2 linked regions of the Homo sapiens genome follow. The protein of the gene in region 2 interacts with the protein of the main gene of each other region in a pairwise test. Each region holds a gene or a part of one and is shown on either strand. Other genes may lie near its edges.

Region 1 (7,595 bases), on a different chromosome or scaffold from region 2:
AAAAAAAAAGGAAACGCAACTCCATTAATGTTATAAATATTATGTGTCAAAAACAAATTATTTTATACAGAAGGAAACGAAGTTACTTTCTTTAAATAGTACCAAGAAACATTCAGTAGAGACATATGGTTGATAACTTTGTCTAAGCCAAAAACTAACACATCTCCTAACTGTACCCCTCGTTGTCTTTTCCACCTCTTTCAGACTTTAAGGAGTGTCATCTTGTTCTAGTGTTCTGGGACTGACAAATTCTTTGCTTTGCTAATCCATATCCTTTAATGATGTTTATATACTTAGAAAGTAAGTGTCCTGTCAACCTTCACCTTTCCTCACCCAATAACCAAGTTTTTCAGTGTCCCAAACTTTCCCAGGCTCCTTAGGTGGAAAGGAGGCACATACGCTTTGCAGCATCCCTTACAGGAAGGCTAGAGTTCATTCACGTAGACATCTCTCTTCCCCACTAGACTGGAGTCCCATGACAGCAAGGATCCTGTGCGAATCAACTCCACACAGCTGCAGCTACACAGGGGTTTGGCACATGCAGGGTGGCCAAGGAGCCTGTGGTGCACTCTCCCTCCATCTCCCAGCCATGTGGCCTTTGCCAGCTCTCCCCCTCTCCTGAGGGGCACAAATGAAAGTGACTTTGTGGTGTTCTAAGGGGAAATGCTCCATGGCTCTCAACAAGGGTGAGATAATACTCTTAGCTTTATTTCTGATACTGCTCTTTGACATCTGTTGGCTATTTTTCAAACTTCAGCACACCACATCAGTATCTTCAAGGGAAACACTCATGGTGACGTAACAAACCCCTTCCTTCACTGTTGCATCTTCACCAATGGCTCAGAGCCTAGGTAATGTTTTTCTCAATGCATTATCCAGCTTCAACACTGCTATGGGACTTTGGGCAAATCATCTAAGCTCTGTTATGTCTCGGTTTTCTCATCTCTAAAGTGAAGATAACAGAACTTTATACTTCATAGGGTTGAGTGTTTAGCCCACCAAGTGATCAATAAAGGTTGGCTGTCTTTAGGTTAATGTCCCATAATTATCCCAATTTTGGTAAGGAAGAATTCTCCTAAGAAATCTTTTCAAAGGCATATTTAAGATGTAATAAATCATGTTACTGACTTGCAAACATATTTATCCTTTCAAAGAAGGCTTCCCTTAGTCAGTTCCAGTTTTAATGTGACATTTTTTTTTCATAAAGACCAAAGATGAAATTCTTTGGGATTCACAGCATAAAAATGGTAAAGGGATAATCCCTTTGTATTGTGTATAATACCAAATGCTATACATTCAAATGTAAAATTCTAAGTTCCTGACATACTAATCCATGAATCTTAATTGTTACAATTAATACACATAGCATAAGACACTTTCTAAAACTTTCATGGTCTCATGCTCTTTAAAAGGTTTAAATGAAAGAGTGCCGCAGACATGCAGGCTACTCCATCTTCTGGACCCTTGCTTTTCCCTCATTATACATTCAAGTATTTAAGAAGATGCAGATGGAATCTCTTTCTTACCTCTCCATCAGCCACGGCAGAATAATTCACTTGGGCAACGGTGACCGTGGTTGGCAATTCTGAAGCATCAGCCAATGTGGCTACTGTTGCCCCCGTACCAACCTAAAGAAAAATATGGAAAGTGGTTAAGTGTCAGTGGATGGATCCTTCCACCTCTTTACTCAGAAGCTGAGACTCATTTAATCCCAAATTCAGCACAGATAACAAAGAATATGCCTTATGATGTGAAATCTAAAATCATAGCTCACTAAAATCATAGTTCAGAGACTATCACGAGTTTCAGAATTTTACTTCAACCAAATAAGTCCATATGAGAAAAGCTATCACATCGCCACATCCATGCCCAGTGTTGGTCAACCAACTTTCTATTCTCACCTCAATCTGAACTTTAGAGGTTCCCAATCAACAAATTGTGTTTTACCTCAGAAGAGGTCATTCAGAAGGAATATTCCCTGATCACTGAGAGTGAAACTGTAAAACAGAAGTCATTTTAAGGCCAGACATGGTGGCCCACATCTGTAATCCCAGCATTTTAGGAGGCCGAGGCAGGAGGATCACTTGAGCTCAGGAGTTTGAGACCAGCCTGGGCAACATAGCAAGACCTCATCTCTACTTAAAAAAAAAAAAAAAATTCAGCCAGGCCTGGTGGCATACACCTGTAGTCCCAGCTACTCGGGAGGCTGAGGAGGGAGAATCACTTGAGCCCGGGAGGTTGAGGCTGCAGTGAGCTGTGATGACAGAGAGAGATCTTGTCTCAAAAAAAAAAAGAGCCCTTTAAAAGTGCTTTGTTTTGGAAATGTCCAGGAAGCTACTCATAGCTCTGTATTTAGCAAATGCAAAGAATTTAAACTATTCTTCAGAAATCAATTTCAGGTAGGAAGATCTTGGGGAGCTATATAAAGTTCATACAAGAGTTCGCACAAAGGAAACTTTCCCTAGTCTGAGGTGAGGTGCCCACTGATCCATCTCAGAAGCCACAGTCTGGTAGCCCTCAGGTTTACTCACCTGGATAAGTGAGACAGTGCCATCAGGGTTACTAAAAGTCTGGACTACAGTCTGTGATGGTACAAGATGAGCTATACTATGTGTGGCTGTGGCCTGTGTTTGCGTTTGCTGATCTTCAAAGGCATACAAAAGGTCTTCCCGCCCATGCTGTTTATAACAGTTTTTAACTATGGTCCGTAGTGCCTGGGTCCATGAAACCTGTCACCAAATGACCGGAAAAGCACATTAAGCCACAAAGAACTTTGGTTATTTAGTCCCAATATGCAATAAGCAGCTACTTCTTTATCAAATCAAACCAAACCAAACCTCTTATTAGACTCTCCTAGGATTACCTCCCACAGACTGGTTCTGGTAGAAAGAAGCTGTGTACGAAGTATCAAAGAGGGCTTCTCATTGGTTTCTTCTTGATCAAAGTCTAGTTTACACCCTATTCCAACCTGAGGCCAAACTCTTAAACTTCTTGCAAAGAAAGATTATTCTGATCAAGAATGGCATATTAAGATTCTCAGTAAACTTCCAAGCTAAATGAAAAATAAATACGTGGCCAGGCATGGTGGCTCACGCCTGTAATCCCAGCACTTTGGGAGGCTGAGGAGGGCGGATGGCCTGAGGTCGGGAGTTCGAGACCAGCCTGACCAGCATGGAGAAACCCCATCTCTACTGAAAATACAAAATTAGCTGGGCATGGTGGTGCATGCCTGTAATCCCAACTACTCGGGAGGCTGAGACAGAAGAATTGCTTGAACCCGGGAGGCAGAGGTTGCGGCGAGCCGAGGTCACGTCATTGCACTCCAGCCTGGGCAACAAGAGTGAGACTCTGTCTCAAAAAAAAAAAAAAAAAAGAAAGAAAAGAAAGAAAAAGAAAAATAAATACGCAAAAAAAGTAAGGAATGGTAGGTAGTTTAGTCTTTCTTGTAAAAGTTTTGTTATTAGCAGACTCAGCTGGCAGACTTCATATCCCTCTAATTCCATATTTACATTTTCAACAATGATTTTTAGTAACCAGAAATAAAAGCATTTCTAAGTGTTCAAAGTGATTAATACTTTTACTTCAAGTTTCTTTGACTTTCCCAAGCACTTCATAAAATTAAAACTGCTCCAAAAGGCAACCCCGAAGACACATTTTAAATTCATCAACTCAACCCAGTCTTCTCTTTATAGTATAGTGATGGAGCGACAAATGGAAAAGGCTATAAATCAAAGAATATCAGTCTTTGGAGGGACAGGCTTAACTATTACACAAAGACTTTCTAGCACAAGATGTAGAAATGACAAAAATTGAGGTGGTTAATTTAGGATGGAAAAGCAACCAGGCAACTCAGTCAGAGGAACTCTCACCCTCTGCTTTTGCTCTTCTGTGCGGACATCACTCCGGACATTTGCCCAGGGGATATCTTCAGGCCACCAGATGGGCTTGCAGCTTTCTTTCCCCCAGCCTGGTTTTCCCCGACCTGTAGAGTACTTGAGCATCTCTGGGATAAATGCCCGAAGCTGGGCCTGGAAGAGAACAGTGTGGTCATCAATACTCATGAAAGACATCTGGGGTGTGTTTATGACTCCTTAAATTCTAACCTTATAAAACAGAGAGGTTTCCAGGAAGGTCCCAGAGAATTCTAAGATGTGACTGATGAAAACCCACTGTTTTCCATAGGTTCCTATATCTCCATGGGTGGTTGAGAATTATAAATATGTTGATAAAGTGCACCTTAGGCTGCATTTTGTAGACTTGTTCCTCTAAGAGTAAGAATATCTACCCCTAAGTTTAATTTCTGCTTCCCAAGATATTACTGGTACTATAGCTTATTTCCCTTCTACAGTTTTCATGCATGTAAGGTGCCAAACTCGGGGTGTTTTCAACACTGTTCTGGAAGTAGGAATCCATGCAATTAGATAAGAGAGAAATAAGAGGCGAGCTGATAAAATCATTATTATTTATAGATGAAGTCACCTTATATCTAGAGAATTCCAAAGAGATCAAATGAAAAACTACTACAAACAATAATGAGAATTCAATAAGGTGGCTGATTATAAAATATAGGAAAACAAACAGGCCTTTAACTTAATAAAAAGGGAAAATAACCCTAAAACTCTTCTAGAAATTTTCCAGTAAGCTAGGCCACTGTCCATGAGTCTGACATATAGACATAGTAAAGCATGTGTGAATTTAAATGCATTATGGACTTCATTCAGATTTATTTTACAAATCAAATCCAGACCAAACAGGTTTTAAACCACAAAGACAACTGCCATTCTTATTTCCTGGCATAGTAACCACACTCTGTGTGTGTTGGGGGAGGGTCTACTTTGTGAATATTCTTAATCGCTGATAATGATTTCTGGCAAGAAAAGCAGTTTATCAATTTATGATCTATTCCTCCTTCCCAGACCTACTGTCTTCCTTTTAACCTGGTGGTCTATAGCACTCCAGATATAAGTAGCATCCTGCAACTAAGGATGCACCCATACTGCCCCTGCAGCTGAAAACCAAAAAGAGGCCACTTTTAGCAATGAATCAGACTCGGGGGTGTGGATTTGTAGTTACAAAGTAAAACAAGAAAAAACAGAAATGAGAATAATTAAGTATTAATGAGAGAATGAGTACAGCAACACTTTAATATTAAAGATTTCTATAAATATCAGGTATTCTTATCATTCTTATAATAAATATTAGATATTATTTTACGAGAAGATGATACAAATTGTTACATAATAGGGAACCATGAACCCAATCAGTAATGTTGACCTAATAAAGTTCTGGTTGACGGTAGCCATGCTGTTAATTCCTGTGCCAAGCCTGCCACTTCACCTCTCTAAGTCCCCCAATGCCCCAACAGTCTCCTGCCTACAGGATATGATATAATACACTCCATATATATTTGGCTCTGGCATCAAGCAGCAGGCTGATAGAAACGTATCCATTTAAAAACCCATCAGCTGGCTCATGCGGTCATTACTTCAGTTATTTTAAGAAAGTACATCTCAAAGTCATTTTTCCCTTTATTCTAATTTCTTGGGAGTGTGTCTTTTTCTAGGCTCAAATACATAGAGCAAGAAAGGGCTTAATCTTCACACACAATATTTTATACTTCTTCATGTTAAAAAAAATGGCTTTCTCAGAGGTATAGATTAAATTGATATAGACTTTCATAAACTCCCTTTTCTTTGAATACCATTAACAGTTTCCAAAAAGGAGAATTCTTTATATTCATACCTAGGAGAGTCTGGAGAAAATGAAATGAGAAGGCTAAATAATTCTAAATTAACAAAATCCTAAAGTGGGTTGGGTGCAGTGGCTCATGCCTATAATCCCTGCACCTTGGGAGGCTCAGGCAGGCAGAATGCTTGAGACCAGGAGTTTGAGACCAGCTTGGGCAACACAGTGGGACTCTGTCTCTACCAAAAATACAAAACTCAGTCGGTTACAGTGGCACGTGCCTGTAGTCCCAGCTACTAGAGAGGCTGAGGCAGGAGGATCGCTTGAGCTCAGGAGGTCAAGGATGCAGTGAGCCATGATGGTGCCACTTCACTCCAGCCTGGGTGACAGAGTGAGACCTTGTCTCAAAACAAAACAAAACAAAACAAAACAAAAATCCTAAAGCGGGTGACAGAGCAAGACCCTGTCTTAAACCAAACAAACAAAACAGAAATCCTAAAGTGATCAGAAAGCACTCACTGTGGAGAATACTAGACTGACAGAGTCTGCTCAGATCCACCTGGAACCCTCTATATTCCCTAATTCTGGTGATCGCTTCACTTCTGACGCCTCACCCTATTTGCACCAATAGTTCCTTATGCTCCTCAGTTCTGGGTCACGTTGGCACCTGGACGTGGATATCTTTCACCCTCAAGTCTTCCTTCGGCTCTCCCACCAGGCCTTCCAACTGAGTTCCAATAACTCAATGTTACTTGAAAGGTGGGCTCAGCATCAGCCTCTTCACTTAAACTCCTACCCTACCCTCTCTCCAATCTACTTGTCTTCTCAACTTTTTTATCTTAGCAAGTAGAAAACCACCCTTTCCCCGGCCACTCAAACTAAAAATGTCAAAGTTATCTTTACTTTTCTCCTTCAACACTTACCTAGTCACACATTGCAAGTCCAGTTCTTTTGTTTTCTTTGAAACGTCTCTGGTGTCTATCCCTTCTTCTCCGGCCCCACCTTTATTCTAATTTTTTGGCCCAAGGCTAGTGTATCCTTCTAGTTGGCTTTCTTGGGAAACTCCAAGTTCTCCCTTCATTCCCTCTTCCCACATATCCTTGCCTGAGAGGTTTTCCTAAATGTTACCTACATAGCTCCAATGCTCAAAACACCTCCAAATGTCTTTTAACTATGGCAACTAAACTAGATCCTTCTGCCCAGCTTTTCAGACCCACCACAATCTGGCCTCACACTACAGTCAGTTCCCATTAATTCCCACCACTCAGCCTTGGTCCTCCATCAGACAAATCTCTGCACTGTCTTAAGAGCTGCTAAGCCCATTCCCGCTTCTTTGCCTTTGTTCTGTCCCCTGGCTGGACTATTTTCCATGCTACTATTCTAATGCCGCCACTCATTCTTTAGTGCCCAGAAAAGTCCTACATTCTTTGTGGAACATATACTAACTATTCATTCATTCTCTCTCTCTCTCTCTCTCACTCTCGGATCTTGCTCTGTGGCCCAGGCTGGAGTGCAGTGGCATGATCACAGTTCAATGCAGCCTCAACCTCCAGGGCTCAAGGGATCCTCCTGTTTCAGCCTTCAGTAGTTGGGACTAAAGGCGCATGCCACCATGCCCAGCTATTTTTTTTCTTTACTTTTCCTTCTTTTCTTTTTTTTCTTTTTGTAGAGAAGGGGTCTCCCTACATTGCCCAGGCCAATCTCCAACTCCTGGACTGAAGCAATCCTCCTGCCTCAACCACCCAAAGTGCTGGGATTTCAGGTGTGAGTCAGTGCACTCAGACTCACTTCTCTTAAGTTAGCTCTTTCTACCAAAAAGAACACAAGGGCCGGGCTTGGTGGCTCACGCCTGTAATCCCAGCACTCTGGAAGGTCAAGGAGAGCAGACTGCCTGAGGTCAGGAATTTGAG
Region 2 (7,761 bases):
TAATGTTGTTAGATGCAGTTTTTAACTCCTAATGGAAAAATGGTGAGGATAAATAAAAGGAAGGAAAGCATAAGTTAGCATTTACTAGCATTTACTCAGTGTGGGCACATTCACTTTACTTAATTCACTTATTTAAGTTTCATTGGTAGGAACACTGTCAACTAAATTGCAAAAGTAAAATAGCTCTGAAAAATGATGCTGAATTATACTCTAAAAGTAAGGTCAAGAATAAGTGTTTTGATGCAATCAAAACAAAGTTTTTCTTTACTGATTTCAACTTATAAAGTTTACAACCTATAATTCTCATAAATGAAAAAGTCAGTACTGTCACCATGCTGAAGCTACTTAGGGCATTGAAAATGACCTTGATATGCCACTAAATTACATGAAATGCAGACTAATATTAAGACTGTAGTAAGTCTGAGTAAACATTTATTTATTTGTTTGAGATGGAGTCTTGCTCTGTTGCCCAGGCTGGAGTGCAGTGGCGTGATCTGGCTTGCTGCAGTGTGTCTCCCGGATTCAAGCGATTCTCCTGCCTCAGCCTCCCAAGTAGCTGGGATTACAGGCATGTGCCATCATGCCCGGCTAATTTTTGTATTTTTAGTAGAGATGGGGTTTCACCATGTTGGCCAGGCTGGTCTTGAACTCCTGAACTCAGGTTATCTGCCCGCCTCCGCCTCCCAAAGTGCTAGGATCACAGGCATGAGCCACCACGCCAGCCAGAAAATGTTTTAAAACAAGCCTGTTGGAATCCCTGCTTTCAATTATTTTGAGCATATACTTAGAAGTGGAATTGCTGAATCATATGGTAATTCTATGTTTAATTTTTTGAAGAATGGTCTCACTATCTTCTACAGTGGCTGCGGCATTTTACCTATAGTAGTTTTCCTGCTGTTATAAAACTACTGACTGGAGCCGGGTACAGTGGTTCATGCCTGTAATCCTAGCACTTTGGGAGGCTGAGGCAGGAGAATCGCTTGGGCCCAGGAGACCAGCCTGGACCACATAGTAGAGATCCCATCTCTACAAAAAATACCAAAACTCTCCGGGCATGGTGGCATGTGCCTGTAGTCCCAGCTGCTCAGGAGGCTGAGGTGGGAGGATCACCTGAGCCCAAGAGGTTGCTGCAGCTGCAGTGAGCCATGATTGCATCATTGCACTCCTGTCTGGGTGACAGAGTGAGATCCTGTCTCTAAATAAATAAATAAAGTAGGCCCGGTGTGGTGGCTAACTCCTGTAATCCTAGAATTTTGGAAGGCCGAGGCAGTAGGATTGCTTGAGCTCAGGAGTTCAAGACCAAACTGGAAGACATAGTGAGACCCCATCTCTACTAAAAATCAAAAAGCTAGCAAGGTGTGGTGATGTGCACCTGTAATCCCAGCTACTTGGGAGACTGAGGCAGGAGGATCAATTGAGCTCAGCAGATGAGGCTGCAGTGAGCTGTGATCACGCCACTGCACTCCAGCCTGGATGACAGAGCGAGACCCTGTCTCCAAAAAGAAAAAAAGGAATAAATAAATAAAACTGCTGACTGAACAGGAGCATTGAATGGGTAAATCATGTGTAAACTAGCCAAAATATTCCCATGCCTCTCTATCTGAATATGCAGTATAATCTAAAAAATATATGCTTTGTAGTGTACCTTTAATATTAATGGCATCTTCTGATGATGAGTTTAACAACTGCAAGATAGCATGATGTAGAGTTTCTGAAATTCTTCGGTATATAATTAGGTTATTTAAACAGATATTACTATTTAACATTTGTTTGCAAGTTTGTGACAGTACATCAAAATAGTTTTTGTATAGTTACACACGTCTATCACAGACATACTAAATTATATATATATATATATATATATATGTAAAATTTATTTATTTATTTAGAGACAGAGTCTAGCTCTGTTGCCCAGGCTAGATTGCAGTGGCGCAATCTTGGCTTACTGCAACCTCTGCCTCTCGGGTTCAAGAGATTCTCATGCCTCAGCCTCCCGAGTAGCTGGGATTACAACTGCCCGCCACCATGCCCAGCTAATTTTCATATTTTTAGTAGAGATGGGGTTCCGCCAGTTGGCTAGGCTGGTCTCGAACTCCTGACCTCAAGTGATCCACCCGCCTCGGTCTCCCAAAGTGCTAGGATTATTGGCACAAGTCACCGCATCCGGCTTAATGTTTTTGTTTTTGTTTTTTTTCCTTATGTGTGCTTATGGGGAAATACCTTCAGATTCACATTCCTGAATATCATGTTTTCTTTCCAAGGCATGACATAACGTCTTGGGATCATCCCTTGCTTTAATGAAAATCGTGGCAAATGAATCTCTTCATACCTGATGATTAGGAAAGCAAGAAGACATCTTGTGAGCCAAATACAATCATTTTAGCATCATTCCAGGCACTGGAGGCAGTTGTGCATTCATGTTTGGTCCCCTGCTGTTGCAGGACAGACGGCTGTGCCATTGAAACTCAGCTAAAAGATAACCATTTAAGTACCCATGTATCAGCAAGATCAAGTCAGGGCCAGGTATCTGTAATTCTAACTGCATGCTGTCCTTTACAATTTGCCCACAATGTCCATTTTAATCTGACTTTTTTTTTTTTTTTTTTTTTTTTTTTTAATGAGATGGAGTGCATTATCATGCCCAGCTGGGGTTTTGCCATGTTGGTCAGGCTGGTCTCGAATTCCTGACCTCAAGTGAACCACCCACCTTGGCCTCTCAAACTGTTGACATTACAGCCGTGAGCCACTGCACCCTGCCCATTTTAACTTGACTTTAAGGGAAAAGGCAAGGCACCTAGATTTGCCTCAGGCCTACCGACTGCCTAAAGGAAATGTCTGGCCAGCCACAAAAAACAGAAACTATATTGGCTTCTGAATTTATGTATGCTCTACACTCAGGTCAGATTTGCTTTCCCTGCACACATATTTCCCTCTGGAACATAAAGCTTTCTGTATAGATGCCAAAGGGGAACACAAAGTTATTGACCGTATCTTTGTGGCTCCCAGGTTGCAAAACAAGCAAACAAAAAACCCCAGAATCCCATAAATCCTTACTTATTAGCAGATTTATAGAGACTCTCATCAGAGCAGTTGTTAGTGAGTTTAGGCAAAGTAGGACAAGTATCTTTCCCTGAAGCCATTCCTGACAGCAATGGATGGAATACTCATCTAAAACTTCACTAACTCACTAGTCTAATTATGATGACAACGCTGCTCTGATGTAACAATGTTTTGCTAACTTCATAGTAACTCTCGGCAGTTACAGTAGCAGTTAAGAGTGTCCAGCTCACAGGTGTGGTGGTGGGTGCCTGTAATCCCAGCTACTCAGGAGGCCAAGGCAGGAGAATCACTTGAACCCAGGAGGCAAAGGTTGCAGTGAGCCGAGACTGCGCCACTGCACTCCAACCTGGGTGACAGAGTGAGACTCTAAATCAAAAAAAAAAAGTGTCCAGCTCAGAGCTATTTTCAGGGCTTTAAAAAAAATCCCCCTTCTGGCCTGGCACAGTGGCTCATGCCTGTAATCCTAGCACTTTGGGAGGATGTGGCAGGAGGATCACTTGAGCCCAGGAATTTGAGACCAGCCTGGGCAACATAGTAAATTCCGGTCTCTACAAAAAATAAAAAAATTTGGCCAAGTGTAGTGGCTCATGCCTGTAATCCCAGCGCTTTGGGAGTCCGAGGCAGGTGGATCACTTGAGGTCAGGAGTTCAAGACCAGCCTGGCCAACATGGTAAAACACCTTCTCTACTAAAAACACAAAAATTAGCCAGGCATGGTGGTGTGCGCCTGTAATCCCAGCTACTTGGGAGGCTGAGGCAGGAGAATTGCTTGAATCCGGGGGCAGAGGTTGCGGCAAACAGAGATGATGCCACTCCACTCCAGCCTGGGTGACAGAGCAAGATTCCATCTCAATAAATAAATAAATAAATAAATAAATAAATAAATAAATAAGCAAGCTGGGCGTGGTCACATGTACTTGTGGTCCCAGCTATTTGAAAGGCTGAGGCAGGAGGATCACTTGAACCCAGGAGATCGAAGCTGCAGTGAGCTGTGATTGCACCACGGCTCTCCAGTCAGGGCAACAAAGCAATACCTTGTCTCCAAAAAACAAGACAAAACAAAACAAAATAAAACAAATTCCTTTTTGAGTAGAACATCATTCTTATAATGAGCAATTAAAAATGAAGATGTTTGTGACACAAATTTGACACATACTAGAAAATACGTTGAACTGAACAATTATTCAGTAATTAAAAAATAATCACTTCAAATTAACATTCTGTATTGGTCCGTGGCTGATTTTCCTCTTTATATATTGCGTATGCCACCTACAGTCAACCGATTTTCAACAAAGGTGCCAAGAACACACACGAGGGAAAAGACAGTCTCTTCAATAAACAGTGCTGGGGAAATTGAACATCCCCATGAAGAAGAATGAGACTAGACCCCTACCTCTCACCATACACAAAAATCAACTCAGAATGGATTAGGATTAAATGTAACTTGAAACTACAAAACTACTAGAAAACATACAGAAATACTCTACAACATTGGGCTGGGCAAGGTTTTTTTTTTTTTTGAGACGGAGGTTCTCACTCTGTCACTCAAGGTTGAGTGCAGTGGCACAATCACGGCTCACTGCAGCCTCAACCTCAATCAATCGTGGGCCCAGGTGATCTTCCCACCCCAGCCTCCCAATAGCTGGGACCACAGGTGTGCACTACCATGCCTGCCTAATTTTAAAAATTTTCTTTTTTTTTGAGACAGAGTCTCACTCTGTCACCAGGCTGGAGTGCAGCGGTGCGATCTCAGCTCACTGCATCTTCCGACTCCCTGGTTCAAGCGATTCTCCTGCCTCAGCCTCCCGAGTAGCTGGGATTACAGGCATGTGCCACAACGCCCAGCTAATTTTTGTATTTTTAGTAGAGACAGCATTTCACCATGTGGGCCAGGATGGTTTTGATCTCCTGACCTCATGATCTGACCGCCTTGGCCTCCCAAAGTGCTGGAATTACAGGCGTGAGCCACCGCGCCCAGCCTAATTTTTAAATTTTTTATAGAGATGGGGTTTTGCCATGTTGCCCAGGCTAGTCTTGAACTCCTATGCTTATGTGATTCACCCACTCAAGCCTCCCAAAGTGCTGGGATTACAGGTGTGAGCCACTTTGCCTGGCCCAAGGATTTTTAAAATAAGACCTCAGCAAAACAGGCCAACAAAAGCAAAAATAAACACATGGGATTACATCAAACTGACAGGCTTTTGCACAGCAAAGGAAACAAGAGTGAAGAGACAACCTACAGAATGGGACAAAACATCTGCAAAATATATATCTGACAAGGGGTTAAAAACCAGACTACATAAAGAACAGTGAAAAATGACCAATCTGATTTAAAACTGGGTAAAATGACTGGGTGTGGTGGCTCATGCCTATAATACCAGCACTTTGGGAGGCTGAGGCAGGAGGATTGCTTGAGCCCAGGAGTTCGAGACCAGTGTGGTGCTAAGCATGATGGATCCTCAGGCAGGAAGATCGCTTGAGCCTGGAAGGTCGAGGCTGCAGTGAACCATGACTGTGCCACTGCACTCCCAGCCCAGGCAACACAGCGAGACACTGTCTTAAAAGGTGAAAGATCTTAGTAGACATTTCTCAAAAGAACACATGCAAAGGTCAAGTAATGAAAAAATGCTCAACATCACTATATACTGCACAACTGATATGTGTCCCATTTATGTTTCACCATCTATTACATGCAGCTCAAGAGTGTAAATCCAATTTGTTTAAACTCAAACCAATCCAGCCTATTTTATCCCCTAAGATTTGTCATATTGCAGAATATTTTAGGTTATGAAAACTGATTTTAATAAAGAAAGGTTACTAGTGAGGATAAATGCTTAAACTACTATAACAGAGAGGTGGATGGTTATTAGTGTAAGTCCTACCCACTGGCAAGTAGAAAAAATATTATTAGGCTAAGCAGGAAGAATTACTGCAAGATATGCTGGTTTGATGAGAGCATAAACTAAAAGAATACATACCTAAGAACAGTTTGCACATCTTGATTTGGATAGCCAGAAAGGTTCAGAGTCATCTTAGATAATTTTTTATTATATTTTTGGAGATGGAGTCTAGCTCTGTGCCCAGTCTGGAGTGCAGTTGCATGATCTTCGTTCACTGCAACCTCCGTCTCCCGGGTTCAAGCAATTCTCCTGCCTCAGGCTCTCAAGTAGCTGGGACCACAGGCACACACTGCCATGCCCAGCTGATTTTTTGTATTTTAGTATAGACGGGGTTTCACCGTGTTGCCCAGGCTGGTCTCGAACTCCTGAGCTCAGGCAATCCGCCTGCCTCGGCCTCCCAGTGTTAGAATTACAGGTATGAGCCACCATGCCGGGCCGATAAATTTTTAAAGAACCTTAAAAACTGCCCTTTCCTCAGCTGCTGCCAAGGTGCTTGGTCATTCCAAGGAAGCTAAGGCCACATTGGGGTGAGAGCCTCACTTCATCCGGCGATTAGCACCTCATCCAGCAGCGCCAGCCCCACACACACCCGTGCCATGGCCTCCCTCTCCGAGCTCGCCTACATCTACTCGGCCCTCATTCTGCATAATGATAAAATCAATGCCCTCATTAAAGCAGCTGGTGTAAATGTTGAACCTTTCTGGCCTGGCGTGTTTGCAAAGGCCCTAGCCAATGTCAGCATCGGGAACCCCATCTGCAATGTAAGGGCTGGTGGACTTGCAGCAGCTGGAGATCCTACCCCCTCCACTGCTGCTGCTTCAGTTGAGAAGAAAGTGGAAGCAAAGAAAGAAGAATCCGAGGAATCTGATGAGGACATGGGCTTTGGTCTTTTTGACTAAACCTCTTTTACAGCATATTCAATAAAAACCTAAACTTTGAAAAAAAGAAATAACCTTAAAAATTGAAGCACTGCTTTCTGTATGGCAGTAGGATGCAACACAAGCCAGAAATCTGAGTGGTTTCCAAATGTTAAAGAAACAACTATTGGCTGGGCGTGGTAGCTCATGCCTGTAATCCCAACACTTTGGGAGGCTGAGGCAGGTGGATCACCTGAGGTCAGGAGTTTGAGACCAGCCTGGCCAACATGGTGAAACCCTGTCTCTACTAAAAATACAAAAAAATTAGCTGGGTGTGGTGGCGTGTGCTTGTAATCCCAGCCACTTGGGAGGCTGAAGCAGGAGAATCGCTTGAACTCGGGAGGCGGAGGTTGCAGTGAGCTGAGATGGTGCCATTGCATTCCAGCCTAGGCAACAAAAGTGAAAACTCCGTCTTAAAAAAAAAGAAAAAGAAAAAAAAAAACAACTATTGCTAAAAAACCAGGAAGGTGTGGGGAAGAAACAATCTTGATGAAGATAAAGTAGCTTCAGGCATCAACGCCCTTTAAAAGGCATAACTTTTGCTAGAAAAATTGGCAATATTTACATTAATATGTGGCATTTAAGTATTCAGAATAATTATCTTTCTTAATGTACTATTTCTAAAATCACCTCCCATAAATTGTCTTAGGGTCAATATCCAATTACCTTTTAAAAATATTTTTCTTGGCTATAGCATTTTTATGAAAAAACATTCAAGATTTAAAAATATAATCACTTGAAGCTCATTAAGGACTGCCAAAAATCTAATTTTATTTTTGCATCCTTTATAAATAAAAAGCAACCGATAACCACTTTCCTCTTAGATCCAACTTCAATGACCACATTCTCAGAACTACCAAAAGACTTCAAGTACACTGTCTGTAA

Evidence for each region.
Region 1: the proteins of SPMIP10 (region 2) and NRF1 interact in binary tests that used the Homo sapiens proteins (3 or more experiments, as listed by UniProt).

Annotation. Positions count from the first base shown.
Region 1 is NC_000007.14:129,705,508-129,713,102, reverse strand, and holds part of NRF1 (nuclear respiratory factor 1), read right to left. Parts: intron 4,029-7,595; coding exon 3,870-4,028; intron 2,730-3,869; coding exon 2,532-2,729; intron 1,629-2,531; coding exon 1,527-1,628; intron 1-1,526. UniProt on the Homo sapiens protein: Transcription factor that activates the expression of the EIF2S1 (EIF2-alpha) gene. Links the transcriptional modulation of key metabolic genes to cellular growth and development.
Region 2 is NC_000005.10:126,627,114-126,634,874, reverse strand, and holds the start of SPMIP10 (sperm-associated microtubule inner protein 10), read right to left. Parts: upstream 3,171-7,761; 5' UTR 3,141-3,170; coding exon 3,055-3,140; intron 2,330-3,054; coding exon 2,221-2,329; intron 1-2,220.